2 separate regions of the Homo sapiens genome follow, and region 1 is linked to region 2. Evidence: fine-mapped expression QTL. Tissue or cell type: whole blood. Region 2 holds a variant in brackets; the other region holds the start of a gene. All regions are shown on one strand. Distances are from middle to middle.

Region 1 (8,102 bases), 85 kb after region 2:
TAACTTCTTTCAATTAGCCTAATGTTTTTGAGGTTCTTCCACGTTGTGGCATGCATCAGTACTTCATTTTTTTTTAATTTTTAATTTTAATTTTTTTGAGATGGAGTCTCACTCTGTCGCCCAGGCTGGAGTGCAGTGGGATGATCTCAGCTCACTGCAACCTCCATCTCCCGGGTTCAAGTGATTCTCCTGCCTCAGCCTCCCGAGTAGCTGGGATTACAGGCATGTGCCACCACGTCTAGCTAATTTTTGTATTTTTAGTAGAGACGGGGTTTCACCATGTTGGCCAGGCTGGTCTCGAACTCCTGACCTCGGGTGATCACCTGCCCTGACCTCCCAAAGTACTGGGATTACGGGCGTGAGCCACTGCGCCCCACCAGTACTTCATTTTTAAAAAATGATCAAATACTGTTGTATGGCTAGATCACATTTTGCATATCTATTCATCGACTGATGGACAGTTGGGTTGTTTCCACCTTTTGGCTACTGTGACTAGTGCTGCTATGGTAATTGGTATACAAGGGCTTGTTTCGTGTGTGTGTGTGTGTGTGTGTGTGTGTATGTGTGTGTATATATATATATATTTTTTTTTTTTTTTTTTTGAGAGACTGTCTCGCTCTGTCACCCAGGCTGGAGTGCAGTGGCATGATCTCGGCTCACTGCAACCTCTGCCTCCCGGGTTCAAGCGATTCCTGTGCCTCAGCCTCCTGAATAGCTGGGATTACAGACGTGCGACACCATGCCCAGCTAATTTTTGTATTTTTGGTAGAGGACTGGGTTTCACCATGTTGGCCAGGCTGGTCTCAAGCTTCTGGCCACAAGTGATCCGCCCACCTCAGCCTCCCAAAATGCTGGGATTACAGGTATGGGCCACCGCTCCTGGCCTTGTGTGGGTATTCTTGAGTGAAAAATACAAGATGCAGAAAAGGATGCCCAATGTGATTCTGATTTGTAAAAGGAATGACAGATAAAGAAACCCTTTGTCCGGGCAGACAGTCTGTATGGGATTTTCATTCTTACAGAAAAATAGGTAAGAATCCATTCTCAATGGTCACCAAGGGAAAAAAAGAAGGCTTTTGCAGAAAAGTAAAAATGAAAAACCACAACAGTGCACACACAGTGGCTCCATGCGGGCATGTGAGACACACTAGACTGAGTGATTGTATGTGCAGATGTGAAAAAAACAGCAAACAACAAAATCAGCCCCGAAACTAGTCTCTCTAGGAGGGGCTGGGCAGGAGCCTGGTCAGATGGAGAAACTGAAGTTGGGAAGAGGGGAGGGAACTCCTAGGAGAGAGTGATCTCCAAAAACTGCTCCCCACCCCTCCTTTTTAACTCCCTCCCCAAATACCAGGTCCCATTGGAGCCAAATTTCCTCAGTGTTTTGGAATCTCAGACCCGCAGGCAGGAGACAGATTCTTCCCCATGGAGGATGCGGTTGGGTTTTTAAGCTCCTGTAGATTGAGCACTTACTACCTGCTAAGTGTTTCACCTACCTTATGGCCTGAGTCCTCTCCCAGCCCCTGAGGAAAAGCTATTGTTCCCTTATTTATTTATTGTTATTGTTACTTTTTATTTATTTACTTATTTTTTAGATGGAGTCCCGCTCTGTTGCCCATGCTGGAGTGCAGTGTCGCGATCTGGGTTCGCTGCAACCTCCGCCTCCCAGGTTCAAGTGATTCTCCTGCCTCAGCCTCCTGAGTAGCTACGATTACAGGTGCCCACCACCACGCCTGGCTAATTTTGTCTTTTTAGCAGAGACAGCGTTTCACCATGTTGGTCAGGCTGGTCTCAAACTCCTGACCTCAAGTGATCTTCCCACCTCGGCCTCCCAAAGTGCTGGGATTACAGGCGTGAGCTGCCGTGCTCAGCTGCTCCCCCATTTTTTTCGTTCAGGAAAGCAAAGTTCAGAGAGGAGTAGGTTTCTGTGCAGGGCGTGTGGCAGAGCTGGACTTGAACTCAGGGCGGAATCCTTAGCCATGGTGCCCCCTGCCACATGGTTCGGCTTTCCTTCATCTCTGCTCCCCAAGATGCCTGGCTCCAGCTGAAGATCCAGGGTTCCCAGGTTCCTCTTCTGGGGACAGGTCCTCCTTCAGCCTGACCTGAGCTCTGCCACTTCCACCGGCATGAACTGTAGCAACAATTTGGCTACCCGGGCCTCATTCTCTCCATCTGGAAAATGGGCACAGCATGTGCCTTTCTGCACAGTGAGGTCATGAAGGATTGATGAGGCAACACGCAAGGAGCGTAAGCCTAGGGCCTGGCACCCAGGAGGCCACCCCAGTGGGCCCTGCTGGGTTTCCGATTTCCCCTGTGACACCTCCTGGGGGCCGGATCCCCAGCGGGAGGAGGGATGAGGCCTGGGGGGCCTGGCTCTGGCACAATGCAGAGCATTGAGCTCATGCCAGCCTTGGCTTTGGGTTTGGACAAATACAGTAATCTGGGCAGGACTCACACAAAGACCTGGGGGCCAGGTCAGGCGAGGGGCGTCAGGTTACCCCTGTGGGCTGCAGCCACACAGGCGGCTTGGGGGGTGTATTTTTTTTCCCTAAAGATTATCATTAAATGAGCCCTCACCGAGGCCTCAGCAGGCAGGTTTCATTACAGGAAAAACTGAGGTATAGGGGTTTGCAGGCCTAACGGGACACGCTGTCACTGTGATAGGAACAGCATTAGCAATAATAACAGCTGTCCTTCCGGACTGGTTCCCAAGGGCTAGGCCCTAGGTGAATAATAAGCCTTTTCTCGATCCTTTCTGCAGCCCGAGAGGAAAGCCCCATGCTATCCCCATTTCATAGATGGGAAAACTGAGGCTTGAGGACACTTTGCGGCCTCCAAGGGCTGTTCTCTTCATTCCTCCAGCAGAGTGGATATGAGACGGTGCAGGGTCTGGAATGTCTGGGCAGAAGGAAGAGCTGGAGCAAAGGCCTGGAGGCTGGAGAGCGCTGTCGGGGGGCAAGTGGGGCAGTGTCCCACTGCGGGGTTTCATCTCAGCTCTGCCATGTCTTGGCTACGTGACCTCTGACACCCTACTGGGCCTCTTTGATCCCAGACTCACCTGTAGAATGGGTGTGTGAGAAGAAAACCTTCTGGAGCGGGGTGTTGAGGAGAGAACAGTGCCTGACACATCATAATAATAATGCTGAATAGATGTTATTTTCATTCCTAACCACTTCCTCCAGGAAGCCCATCCTGACCTCTAGCTCCCAAAGTCACCTGGACTTCCTCCATCACAGACCTTGCCACAGTGTGAGAAACTGCCTCATCCACACACCAGCTTCTCACCTCCACCCAGACCCTCTGATTGGGACTCCCCTGAAGACTGTGTCCCCAGAGCCCAGAAAGAGTCCAGCACAGAGCAGCTGAGGGGGCAGGTGCTGGTGAACAGTGTCAATGAGCCCCTGCTACTCACCAAGCCCTTCACACACGGGTCCTTCATTTAATGTCTTTCTTCTCCTAGATAGAACCTTGGCTTTGCCAAGACCGGTATAGTTGCTGCTCAAGAAATATGTGAGGAAATTGTTGAGATGAACCAGCACTCAGGGGAAGGGAGGCTTTCTGAGGCTGGGGCCTTAGCAGGTGGAGCTCCTGGGATAATAATAATAAGAAAGATGCCTGGACGCGGTGACTCACACCTGGAATCCCAGCAATTTGGGAGGCTAAGGCAGGCAGATCACTTCAGGCCAGGAGTTCAAGACCAGCCTGGTCAACATGGTGAAACCTGGTCTCTACTAAAAATACAAAAAATTAGCTGGGCCTGGTGGTGTGAGCCTATAGTCCTAGCTTCTCGGGAGGCTGAGGCTGGAGGGTCAATGATTGAACCTGGGAGGTGGAGCTTGTAGTGAGCCGAGATCGCGCCACTGCCACTGCACTCCAGGCTGGGCAACACAGTGAGACTCTGCCTCCAAAAAGAAAGACAACAATAATCATTAGTCTTTACTCTGCTCCAGGCACCAGGCTGAGTCTTCTCAGTTCATCTCCCCAGCAGATTAGTTCTATTATTGTTTCCATTTCACAGATGGGAAAATCAAGGCACAGGGAGGGGAGGTGGCTTACTCCAGGTCACACAGTTAGTGAGAGGCAGAGGCAGGATCAAAGCCAAGCCTGTTTGACTGAGGAGCCCGCCCCGAGACCTTAACCACACAACCCCTCCCTAGAAGGAAGGTGCCACTACTGGACACATTTTGGAGATGGAAACCAAGGCTAAGAGAGTCAGGATGGCCTGCCCATGTCTGGACACAGAAACTGAGGTTAAGCAGGAGATGCCCGAGGCGGGGTCCCTGTCTCCTAGGCCAGCACCCTGAAGAAGGGGTGGGAGACAACCCCCCACCCCCCAAGCTGTCCCCTGCTTGTTGGAGTTTCTGGTCAATACCCTGGCCTCTGTTACCCAGCCCAGCACCCAAGACGCTGCCTCTTCCGCCTGCCTGGAGTCTCGGGTGCCTTCACAATCGGATTCTCTGTCTCTGCAGCTGCTTTCCATTTGAGCCCTTTGTGCTGAAAATAAAAAAAATGAAAAGAAAACTTGGCACCACCCCTCTGCTTTGCTTCCTGGGGAGGAAGGAGGATCCCAGCTACTTCTTTCCCTCATTCTGGGGCCCAGAGATACCCACAGCCTGCCCGAGGTCACACAGCAGGGTTGGAGCCGGGACCCTGGCCTTAGACTCCCCTTCCAGTGCTCTACCCACTCTGGCCACTGCCTCTGATGTTCCTGGCTCTTCCTCTAGGCCCGTGAGGAGCAGAGAAATTAGGATGAATGTTCCCGAGCCCTACCACATGCTGGGCACTCTGCCATCCTGGGCTCACGAAACCCTCATGACAGCCCTGTGAGGTCCCGTCATCCCATTTAACCAACAAGGAAGCTGAGGCTCAGAGAGGGGAAGCGCCCAAGGTCACACAGCTGGGATGTGGCAGAGCTGGGGTTCCAGCTCCTGTTCCCATTGCTGGACAGCTGCCACATCTGGCACCCAATTTAGGACCCCGCGGGGAGGCCCAAGCCCCGGGGGTGGCGGGGGATCCTAGAGGAAAGTGGCAAGGCCAGGACCCTGGAGCAGAGCCAGGTAGGAACAATGGGTTCTCAGAGACCAAGGTGGCAGGGCGGGGCGGCTGCTGAGCAGGGGCGGCAGGGCGAGGTGGCGGGCGGGGCCCAGGAGACTTCATGCTCCCGCCTCCTACTCCAGCTCCCTGTTTGGGATCTGGGGACGCTCCAAGCACCTCAGCTTCTCAACCTGGACAGACCCACGGCTCCAGCAGGAGGCAGGGCCAGCCCTGTGTATAACCATAAATATAATGGGCAATAATCAGATTTCACGCTTACCGAGCCCTACTACAGGCCAGACACTGGGTCAAGGGTCCTTCCTGGGTCATCACAATCAGCCTAGGAGGTGCAATTAGGATTAGTGGCTTTTTACAGATGCGGAAACAGAGGTCCAGGGAGCTACTCAGCACCTGCTGTGCCAGGACAAAGAACTTTGGGAAGTGGGGCCCTCAGAGGGTGGGTACCCTGTTCCCAGAGGCAGGAAAGTTGAGGTGGACTGGACTCAGTGGGGCTCAGTGGGACACCGTGGGGAGTCAGTGCTCTCTGGGGGCGAGATGAATTAGAGGGAGCCCTTTTGGTTTTTTAGAATCTGAACATGGGGCGGGGGAAGCAGAGATGTGGGGAGCAGATGAAGCCTCCCTGGCACTGCTGGGAGGATTAAAGGACTTGATGGACACCCAGGGCTTGGAAATGTACCTGGTAGAGAGTAGGTGCTCAGGGAACAACTCCTGTTTGCAGAAACAGCAACTCACACTTAGGGAGCCTGCTGTGCATCTGAACCCCGTGCTTGGGTGTTTCTGACCCCCTTCCAGCTCTCATCCCTCCTCTCTCCATTTTCTCCCCTGTCTCAGGTTCATTCCTATGTTTCCTCTTGCCCCAATTAGGCCATCTTCTATGACTGCAACAGTAAAAATATTAATTAAATCTTATAACATGAAGTCTAACGTGGGGCCATTCCAGTGTTCCAGGGCAGGCTCCCTGCGCTCTAGGTAGGCATCTCTTCACTTCTCTTTCTTCATGGGCCCCAGTGCCTGCTGTGGCTCAAGACATCACGTCCCACATGATCACATCCTAACTAGGAAGAGATGAACAGAAAAGGGGACTTTCTCCTCCAGGATCTCACTTTTTTTTTTTTTTTTTTTTTTGAGACAGAGTCTTGCTCTGTTGCCCAGGCTGGAGTGCAATGGCACGATCTCGGCTTACTGCAACCTCCGCCTCCTGGGTTCAAGCGATTCTCCTACCTCAGCCTCCCACATAGCTGGGATTACAGGCGTGGGCCACCACTCCCAGCTAATTTTTTGTATTTTTAGTAGAGATGAATTTTCACCATGTTGGCCAGGCTGGTCTCAAACTCCTGACTTCAGGTGATCCACCCACCTCAGCCTCCCAAAAGTGCTAGGATTACAGGCGTGAGCCACCGTGCCCAGCCAACAATTTTTCTTACATGTCCCAGTGGATGTCCCCTGGTGTCTCATGGAATGATGGGCTCACATGTCCACATTTGAACCAGAAAGGAATTCCCGTGGCTGACTCAGGCCAATTAGGGTTCAGCCTGTCTGGCTGCTCCAAAGAGATGTGGGCTCCGAAGGTGATGGGGGCACGGCTGGGCTGGCCACCAGCTGGAGTCTCACTGACGGCCTAAGTGGCACAGTGGGCCTGGGTTTGCTCGGCCTTCTCTGGCTGGTCCTCTTGGCAGCGTCTGCCCCCTGGGTAACTGCCCCCTCCTTGAGCACAGTCTTCCCCAGCCTCTTGATGGCGGCTTGCTGGTCTCGCTGGTTCTCCTCTTACTTCCCTGCCCGTTCCTCCTTGGGCCTTGAAAACGACCCCTCTCCTGCCTTCATCTGACCCTTGCCCCGTGAGCTCAGCTGTGCGGGGTCCCTCGTGCCTTTATGCGGGCTCTGTCAGTCTGTCCATGGGTGTCCCAGGGGCGCACCCCACTGGGAGACATGGATGTCTTTCCCAGCTGAGAAGACAGCACTGCCACCCACCCAGTGGGCCAGGCCTCAGACCCCAGAGTTGTCCTTAACTCCTCTCTCTCTAACCCCAACATTCAATCCTCAGCAAATTCCATCGGCTCTGCCTGTGGACTGAATCCAGAACTCGACAAGTCTTCCCTCCTCTGTCTGGTCATTGCTCGCCTGCCTGGGCAGAATCTCCGCCCTGGACTCCCCACCCACCCCACACAGCCCTCCACACTCAGCCAGAGGGCTCCTGTTGGAACCCAAGTCAGGTCACACCATTGCCTCACTCCAAACCCTACTCCTACCTCCCTCAGAGAGAAAGACAGTCCCTGCTCTGGTCCCAAGGACAGCCCTGCATGGCCTTCCCCCTCCCCACCTCCCCTCCCCTCTTCCCTGCCCGCAGTGACCTCCCTCCTCCTGCTAGAACACATAGAGCTTTGCCCCACCTCTCCTGGGTGCTCTTTTTCTGGATCTTTCCATGATCAGCCCCATCCCCTCACTCGGGCCTGTGCACCTCAGAGAGGCCTCCCAGACCATCCCTGAAAGTAGCCCTGCCCACCCCTACCACACCTGCCAAAGGTCAGCTTCGGCAAGTGGGGACTGTGTCTTATTCAGCATGGGGCCAGCACAGGGCAGTGCGCAGAACGCAGCAGCTGGCGCCGGGCTCCGTGGGTCCTCCCACAGATGCAGTCCATAGGGATGGTGTCTGGGTCCCAAGGTGACCCCTGGGCTGAGGTCACCACCTTTCCTCTTCCAGGATCACTGCCTGGATGACGGTGGGTGTCCCAGTGGTGGGGAGAGCAGCTCCGAGCCTCCATCATGCCCAGAGCAATGGGCACTGGAGCCTGGAACCTTCTTTCCGTATCACAGAACCTCCAGGAGTCTGGAAGGAGACAGTTGCAAGGAATGGAATTTAGGAACTTTTGGTCCATGCTCGGTGTTCCCTTTGGGGGTATCTTGTCCGATGGTTATTGTTTTTGTTTCCCCTTTTCCTGAGCTGTGGTGCCTATTGTTCAAACAGAGGACCCCAAGCGATGGCCTGCCTCACTCAGGCGCAAGCACCCGAGCTGTCTGGCAAGGTGGCAATCCACCACGGCCAACTTCCC
Region 2 (8,102 bases):
GTGCGTGCCTGTGGTCCCAGCTACTTGGGAGGCAGAGGAGGGAAGGGCACCTGAGTCTGGGGGTGTTGAGGCTGCAGTGAGCTGTGATGGTGCCGACGTACTTGAGCCTGGGCTACAGAGATCTTATCTAAAGAAAAGCCTAAATGAATGTGTGGTGAGGAGCAGGCTTGAGTTATTTTCATGATGAGCTCCTCAGGATAGATTCTCAAAAGTGGCATTGGTGGGGCTCTACCTCTGTTTATTCATTAATCTGTTTTATTTTTATATTTATTTATTTATTTCAGTTATTTTTTTGAGATGGAGTTTCACTCTGTCACCCAGGCTGGAGTGCAGTGGCACGATCTCGGTTCACTGCAACATCCCTCTCCCAGGTTCAAGCAATTCTCCTACCTCAGCCTCACAAGTAACTGGGATTACAGGCGTGCGCCACCACATTCAGCTAATTTTTAGTAGAGACGCAGTTTCACCATGTTGGCCAGGCTGGTCTTGAACTCCTGACCTCAAGTGATCCACCCGCCTTGGCCTCCCAAAGTGCTGGGATTACAGGTGGCAGTCACCATGGCTGGCTTGTTTTATTTTTAACATTTAATTGGGTAAGCTGCAGATACCCCTCAAGATGTCAGTGTGCATGTCAAGATGTCAGTGTGCACGTCATTAACTAGAGTCAAATATTTGTTTCTCTGTCTGTAAAGCTTACATTTGGTGAACTGCACCTTTAGGTGTACTTTTGATTATTATTATTATTTTTTTGAGATGGAGTTTTGCTCTGTCACCAAGGCTGAGTCTAGTGTTGCGATCTCTGCTCACTGCAACCTCTGCCTCCAGGGTTCAAGTGATTCTTCTGCCTCAGCCTCCTGAGCAGTTGGGATTACAGGCGCCTGCCACTGCACCAGGCTAATTTTTGTATTTTTAGTAGAGATGGGGTTTCACCATGTTGGCCAGGCTGGTCTTGAGCTCCTGACCTCAAGTGATTCACCCGCCCCAGCCTCCCAAAGTGCTGGGATTACAGGGGTGAGCCACTGCGCCCAGCCACTTTTGATTACTTTTGACAAATGCATCCACCTGCACTGCCCAAACTCCCTCCAAGATGTTAAACATGCAGTGGGTTGAATTGTGTCCCCCAAGAAGATATGTTCAAGTCCTAACCCCTGGGACCTGTGAATGTGACCTTATTTGGAAATAGGGGCTTGCAGATGAACCCAACTTAAGATGAGATCATTCTGGATTGTGGGGGCTCTAAATCCAATGACTGGTGTTTATATAAGAGAAAGGAGAGGGAGATTTGGAGGTGAACACACAGAGGGAAGAAGGCACTGGAAGAAGGCCGTTGGAAGATTAAGGCAGAGATTGGGGTGAGGCAGCTAGAGCCAAGGAACATGGTGGATGGCGGGCAAGCACCATGGAAGAGGCAAGGAGGGATTCTTCCCCAGAGCCTCCAGAGGGAGCAGGACCCTGGTTTCAGGGGAGAATAAATTTCTGTTGTTTTGGGTTTGTGGTATCTTATCATGGCGGCCTTAGGAAACTCACACGAAACACACACCATCACCCCAGCGAGCACCCTTGTCCCCTCCTCAGTTGTGCTCTCCCCCAACTGGCAACCACCGTGCTGATATTTTCCTCATGGGTGAGTTCTGCCTGTTCTAGAGCTCTAAACAGATGGGATCACACAGGAAGTTCTTGGCATCTGGCATCTTTCACTCAAACAAGATTTCAGAGATTGTTGCAGCTATCAGTGCTGGCACGCCTATAATTAAAGTCCATTTACTTGAAGAGGAAGTAAATTTTGAATTTGAGGAGGGGAGTAGGCAGTAAGCTTTCTTTTTTTTTTTTTTTTTGAGACCGAGTTTCACTCTTTTTGCCCAGGCTGGAGTGCAATGGTGCGATCTCGGCTCACCGCAACCTCTGCCTCCCGGGTTCAAGCGATTCTCCTGCCTCAGCCTCCCAAGTAGCTGGGATTATAGGCATGCACCACCACACCGGGCTAATTTTTGTATTTTTAATATTTTTGTATTTTGTATTTTTAGTAGAGACGGGGGTTTCACCATGTTGGTCAGGCTGGTCTCGAACTCCTGACCTCAGGTGATCTGCCCGCCTGGGCCTCCCAAAATGCTGGGATTACAGGCGTGAGCCACCGCGCCTGGCCTGTAAGCTTTCTCTTTAAAGCTGGGCTTGAGGCCCCCTCTCCCGGGGGTCTCTGGCCCTCAGGAACCCCAGTCTGAAGCTGTTTCCCAGTTCAGAGGTTGCAGAGATCGGAGGCGGGGCTCCCGCGCCACCTTGTGGCCATTCTAGGCAGCGCAACCCATGATGCCTGTGGCGGGGCGTGGGGGTGGGGTGGGGTGGGTTGGGGAAGGTGGGTTGGGCAAATGTGTATTTTCCTGGTTTGGGCCCTCAAGTCACTGAGCACCTACTCAGCACCTGCATGATTCCACTGTATGTGTGTGTGGACAGAGATGACCAAGATTGCGCAGACCCTAGAGGGGTTCCCAGGAGAGGGAGACTACACAACACTAACTCCAGTAGGGTGGATGGAGTGAGGCCCAGAGGCCTGAAGTCCAGCTGGAGCCTGGAGGAGGGGAGAGTAACGGACTTGGGCATTCAGGGAACGTTTCCCTGGGCATTTCGACAGCTGGGGATGGAAAGGAAGACTGTTACAGGCAGGGGAACAGCACAACCAAGGTGTGGAAGCAGGACCGGGCAACATTCTGGACCCAACCAATCATAAGGTCATACGTGTCCATGGCAAACATTTTTTTTTTTTCTTTTTAGAGACAAGGTCTTGCTCCATCACCCAGGCTGGAGTGCAGTGACACAGTCATGGCTCACTGCAGCCTTGACCTCTCGGGCCCAAGAGATCCTCCTGCCTCAATCTCCTGAATGTCTGGGACTGCAGATGCGCACCACCATACCTGGCTAATTTTGGATTTTTTTGTATAGACGGGGGGGTCTCGCTATGTTGACCGGCTTGTCTTGAACTCCTGGCCTCAAGTGATCCTCCTGCTTTGGCCTCTCAAAGTGCTGGGATTATAGGCGTGAGCCACCACGCTAGGCCCCATGGTGAATTGAGTTTTTTTTTTTTTTGAGACAGGGTCTTGTTCTGTTGCCCAGGCTGGAGTGCAGTGGCTCAATCTTGGCTCACTGCAGCCTCTGCTCCCCTTCCTGGGCTCAAGTGATTCTCCTGCCTCAGCCTCCTGAGTAGCTGGGATTACAGGGTCGTGCCACTGCGCCTGGCTAATTTTTGTATTTTTAGTAGAGATAGGGTTTCACCATGTTGGCCAGGCCGGTCTTGAACTCCTGACCTGAAATGATCCACCCGCCTCGGCCTCCCAAAGTGCTGGGATTACAGGCGTGAGCCACCGCGCCTGGCTGGCTTAAGTCTTAAGCAGCAGCTTCCACTTTTGTGTTCTGGGGGAGGCCAGCAGCTGTGTAAGAAGTCTGTGCTGGTTGCAAAAAGTGCAAGGTTTAAAAAAAAAAAAAAAAAAAAAAAAGACT[G/A]TGCTGAGGAGACCACATGGAAAGGGCAAGAGAGGCCAGGAGGAGAGGCTACTTGAAGGGACAACTTGCAGCATGTGCAGAGGCCACATGGGGAGAAAGAAACTGCCAGAGGGAGCACTGAGGAATGAACTAAGGCAGCAGACACATGGTCCAGCCAGCCATCCGCCACTCGGGCCAGCCGTGAGGTGCCACACGTGGAGCACAGAAGCCACTGTGGACGCTTGGAGCAGAGATAAGCCGTCCCCTCATGCTCTGTCCTAATTCCTCACCTACAGGATCGTGAGCAAATATACTGGTGGTTATTTTAAGCCCTTAAAAAACAGAATTACTGGCCGGGCGTGGTAGCTCACACCTGTAATCCCAACACTTTGGGCGGCCGAGGTGGGTGGATCACTTGAGGTCAGGAGTTCAAGACTAGCCTGGCCTACATGGCAAAACCCTGTCTCTACTAAAAATACAAAAATTTTTTATTTTGTATTTTTAGGGCGTGGTGGCACACACCTGTAATCCAGCTATTTGGGAGGCTAAGGCATGAGAGCTGCTTGAACCTGGGAAGTGGAATTTGCAGTGAGCTGAGATCTGAGATCATGCCACTGCACTCCAGCCTGGGCAACAAAGTGAGACTCTGTTTTGAAAAAAAAAAAAAAAAAAGGCATTACTATATAATCCAGTAACCCCACCACTGGGTATATATCCCATGGAAATGAATCTAGTGTGTTGAAGAAATATCTGCGCTTGCACATATCCTATGGAAATGAATCTAGTATGTTGAAGAAATATCTGCGCTTGCACGGTTATTGCAGCGTTATTCACTAAGTTTTGAGGTGCAGTGTTACATGGTGGCAGCCAGAACCCCCGGCCCTGGGCTACTACTGTTGCTGGTTTCTTATGACCCTTCCAGCATGAGCCTCTGCATCCTCAAATACATGAAGCTGGGTGCGGTGGCGCACGTCTGCAGTCCCAGCTACTCAGGAGGCTGAGGTGGGAGGATCGCCAGACCCAGGAATTTGTGTGCTATGATCTCCCTGTGAACAGCCACTGCAGTCCAGCCTGGGTGATACAGTGAGACCCTGTTTCTAAACAGATAAACAAACCAAAAAGAATACGTGAGTACATTTCCACTCCTCCCCTCATTTATGTGGGGTTCGCACACCACACATCCGGCCTGCTCTTGGCTTTTATTTTTTTTCCAATTAATGATAGATCTTGGAGATTGTTCTAGATGTGTACTGTTCAATATAGTAGTCGCTAGTCCAGGAGGTGATTTAAATGTATTTTAAAAGATTAAATTTTTATGTATTTTTTAAAAGTAGAGCACTCCTCCTGCCTCAGCCTCCCAAGTAGCTGGGACTACAGGCACACACCACCATGACCGGCTAATTTTTTTTTTTTTTTTTTTAAGATGGAGTCTCACTCTGTTGCCCAGGCTGGAGTGCAGTGGCATGATCTCGGCTCACTGCAACCTCTGCTGCCCGGGTTCAAGTGATTCTCTTGCCTCAGCCTCCTGAGTAGCTGGGATTATAGGCACCTGCCACTGTGCCTGGCTAATTTTTGTGGGTTTTTTTTTTTAGTAGAGATGGGGTTTCACCATCTTGGCCAGGCTGGTCTTGAACTCCTGACCTCATGATCCACCCGCCTTGGCCTCCCAAAGTGCTGGGATTACAGGTGTGAGCCACTGCACCCAGCCTTAATTTAAATTTAAATACAATTCAATAAAATTAAAAATTCAGTTCCTCAAGTACACTAGCCACATTTCAGGAATTCAATAGACACACATGGCTGATAGCTGCCGTATGATACAACCCAGATAGAGAACATGTCCATCATTCTAGAAGGTTCTCTTGGACAGTGCTGGTCTAAGTCCTCTCCCATGGAGCTACCTCATTCTTCTTAGTGTTCTTTGGTAATGACAGCCACTGACGTTACCTCACAAGCTTTTGCTATTGCAAAGCATTTGCTGTTCTCCATTTTTCTTTAAGCAAATGTGAGTGTCTTGGTGGCATAAATGCCTTGCATTTCTGGGTCCAGTGACATTTCCCATTTTGTTTTTTTCCTTTTTTTATATTTTGTTTTATTATTTTTTAAATTATACTTTAAGTTTTAGGGTACATGTGCACAATGTGCAGGTTAGTTACATATGTATACATGTGCCATGTTGGTGTGCTGCACCCAGTAACTCGTCATTTAACATTAGGTATATCTCCAAATGCTATCCCTACCCCCTTCCCCCACCCCACAACAGGCCCCGGTGTGTGATGTTCCCCTTCCTGTGTCCATGTGTTCTCATTGTTCAATTTCCACCTATGAGTGAGAATATGCCGTGTTTGGTTTTTTTTGTCCTTGCGATAGTTTGCTGAGAATGATGGTTTCCAGCTTCATCCATGTCACTACAAAGGACATGAACTCTCATTTTTTATGGCTGCGACATTTCCCATTTTGATGGGCATGGCCAGATTAGAACTGGAGGTTACGCCACTTCGCACAAAGACTGAAGCTGTAAGAGTGCCTGTTTTTCCACACCATCAACACTGCGTGTCATTCACATTTTAAAAACGTTTTAGCTAATGGCAAAGGTTTTCAAGACAAACGTGACTTTACCAGGCCCCTGCCCTGCCTGTTGCCTCTCAAGTCACAATGCCAGTGGACATCTTTCTCTGTCCACAGGTGAAGATCCATCTTTTGTTTGTTTGTTAGAAATGAGAGGCCGGGCGTGGTGGCTCATGCCTGTAATCCCAGCACTTTGGGAGGCCGAGGCGGGTGGATCAGGAGGTCAGGAGATCGAGACCACGGTGAAACTCCGTCTCTACTAAAAATACAAAAAATTAGCTGGGCGCAGTGGCGGGCGCCTGTAGTCCCAGCTACTTGGGAGGCTGAGGCAGAATGGCGTGAACCAGGAAGGCGGAGCTTGCAGTGAGCCGAGATCGCGCCACTGCACTCCAGCCTGGGCGACAGAGCGAGACTCCGTCTCAAAAAAAAAAAAAAAAAAAAAAAAAAAAAGAGATCTTACTGTATTGCCCAGGCTGGTCTTGAACTCCTGGGCTCAAGGGATCCTCCTGCCTCGGCCTCCCAAAGTGCTGGGATTACAGGTGTGAACCACTGCGCCTGGCCCACGTTGGCCTTTTTTTTCAAATTGTAAAATACGCAGAACATAAAACTTACCATATTAACCATTTTAAGTGCACAGTTTGGTGCCATTAAGGACATTCACGCTGTTGGGTAATCGTCACCACCATCCATCTCCAGAACTCTTTCCATCTTCCCAAAGATGGAACTCTATATCCATTAAACAAGAACTTCCTCCTACCTCAGCTCCTGGCAACCACTGTTCTATTTTCTGTCTTTATGAATCTGACTACTCAAGGCACTTCATGTAAGTGGTATCATGCAGTATTTGTCCTTTTGTGACTGGCTTATTTCACTTAGCACAATATCCTTAAGGTTCATCCGTGTTGTAGCCTGTGTCAGAATCTCCTTACTTTTTAAGGCTAAATAACATTCTATTGTACAGACACATCACATTTTGTCCATTCGTCCATCGATGGACACGGGTGGCTTCCACCTCTTTTTTTTTTTTTTTTTTTTTTTTTAAGTCGGCGTCTTGCTCTGTCACCTAGGCTGGAGTGCAGTGGTGCGATCTCAGCTCACTGCAACCTCTACCTCCCAGGTTCAAGCGATTCTCCTGTCTCAGCCTCCCAAGTAGCAGGGATTACAGGCACCCGCCACCACACCCAGCTAATTGCTTCCACCTTTTGGCTATTGTGAAGAAGGCTGCTATGAACGTGAGTGTACAAATATCTCTTCAAGATCTTGCTTTCAATTCGTTTGGATACACACCCAGAAATAAAATTGCTGGGTCATTTGGTAATTCTATTTTTAATTTTTTGAGGAACAGCCATACCATTTCCCACAGTAGCTACACAAGCATTCCAGTTTCTACACATCCTTCCCAACGCAGCAGCCAGCCTAATGGGCGTAAGGTGGTATCTCATTGTGTTTTATTCCTTTTATTTTTAGTTGACACATAATTGTACATGTTCATGGGTTACAAAATGATATTTCAATACATGTATACAACGTGTAATAATCAAATCTGGGTAATTAGGATATCCATTACCTCAAGCGTTTATCATTTCTTTGTGTCGGGAACATTCAAAATCCTCTCTTCTCATTGCGTTTTGTTTGTTTTTTAGATGGAGTCTCACTCAGTTGCCCAGGCTGGGGTGCAGTGGCGTGATCTTGGCTTGCTGCAACCTCCACCTCCCAGGTTCAAGTGATTCTCCTGCCTCAGCCTCCCAAGTAGCTGGGACTATACGCACGTACCATCACGCCCAGCTAATTTTTGTATTTTTAGTAGAGACGGGGTTTCACCGTGTCGGCCAGGCTGGTCTCCAACTCTTGACCTCAGGTGATCCACCAAAGTGTTGCGCCTCATTGCAGTTTTGGTTTGTATTTCCTTAATGGTTAGTGATGTTGAGTATCTTATCATGTGATTATTAGCCATTCACAGTTTTCTCTGGAGAAATGTTTATTCAAGTCCTTTGCCCATTTTTAATTGAGTTGTTTTTATTGCTGTTGAGTTGTAACAGTTCTTTATGTATTCTGGATATGAACCC

Evidence for each region. PIP is the estimated chance that this variant, and not a neighbour inherited with it, causes the effect.
Region 1: PELATON starts here. The variant in region 2 is fine-mapped to the expression of PELATON in whole blood (INTERVAL, PIP above 0.99). The same link has a PIP of 0.9 or more in blood mononuclear cells.

What each region holds. Positions count from the first base shown.
Region 1 is chr20:50,262,607-50,270,708 of GRCh38, forward strand. It overlaps PELATON (plaque enriched lncRNA in atherosclerotic and inflammatory bowel macrophage regulation), which reads left to right and starts at 4,872. Exons shown (of 4, transcript NR_170992.1): 1 at 4,872-5,057. LOC105372656 (a long non-coding RNA gene) reads left to right here. Exons shown (of 3, transcript XR_936835.3): 3 at 1,596-1,640.
Region 2 is chr20:50,177,130-50,185,231 of GRCh38, forward strand. CEBPB-AS1 (CEBPB antisense RNA 1) reads right to left here. Exons shown (of 7, transcript NR_125739.1): 7 at 7,474-8,102. Among named protein-coding and RNA genes, the nearest start is that of LINC01273, 8.6 kb to the left of the region's middle. RefSeq lists an enhancer at 2,041-2,540. The variant G/A (reference allele first, on the strand shown) is at 3,490.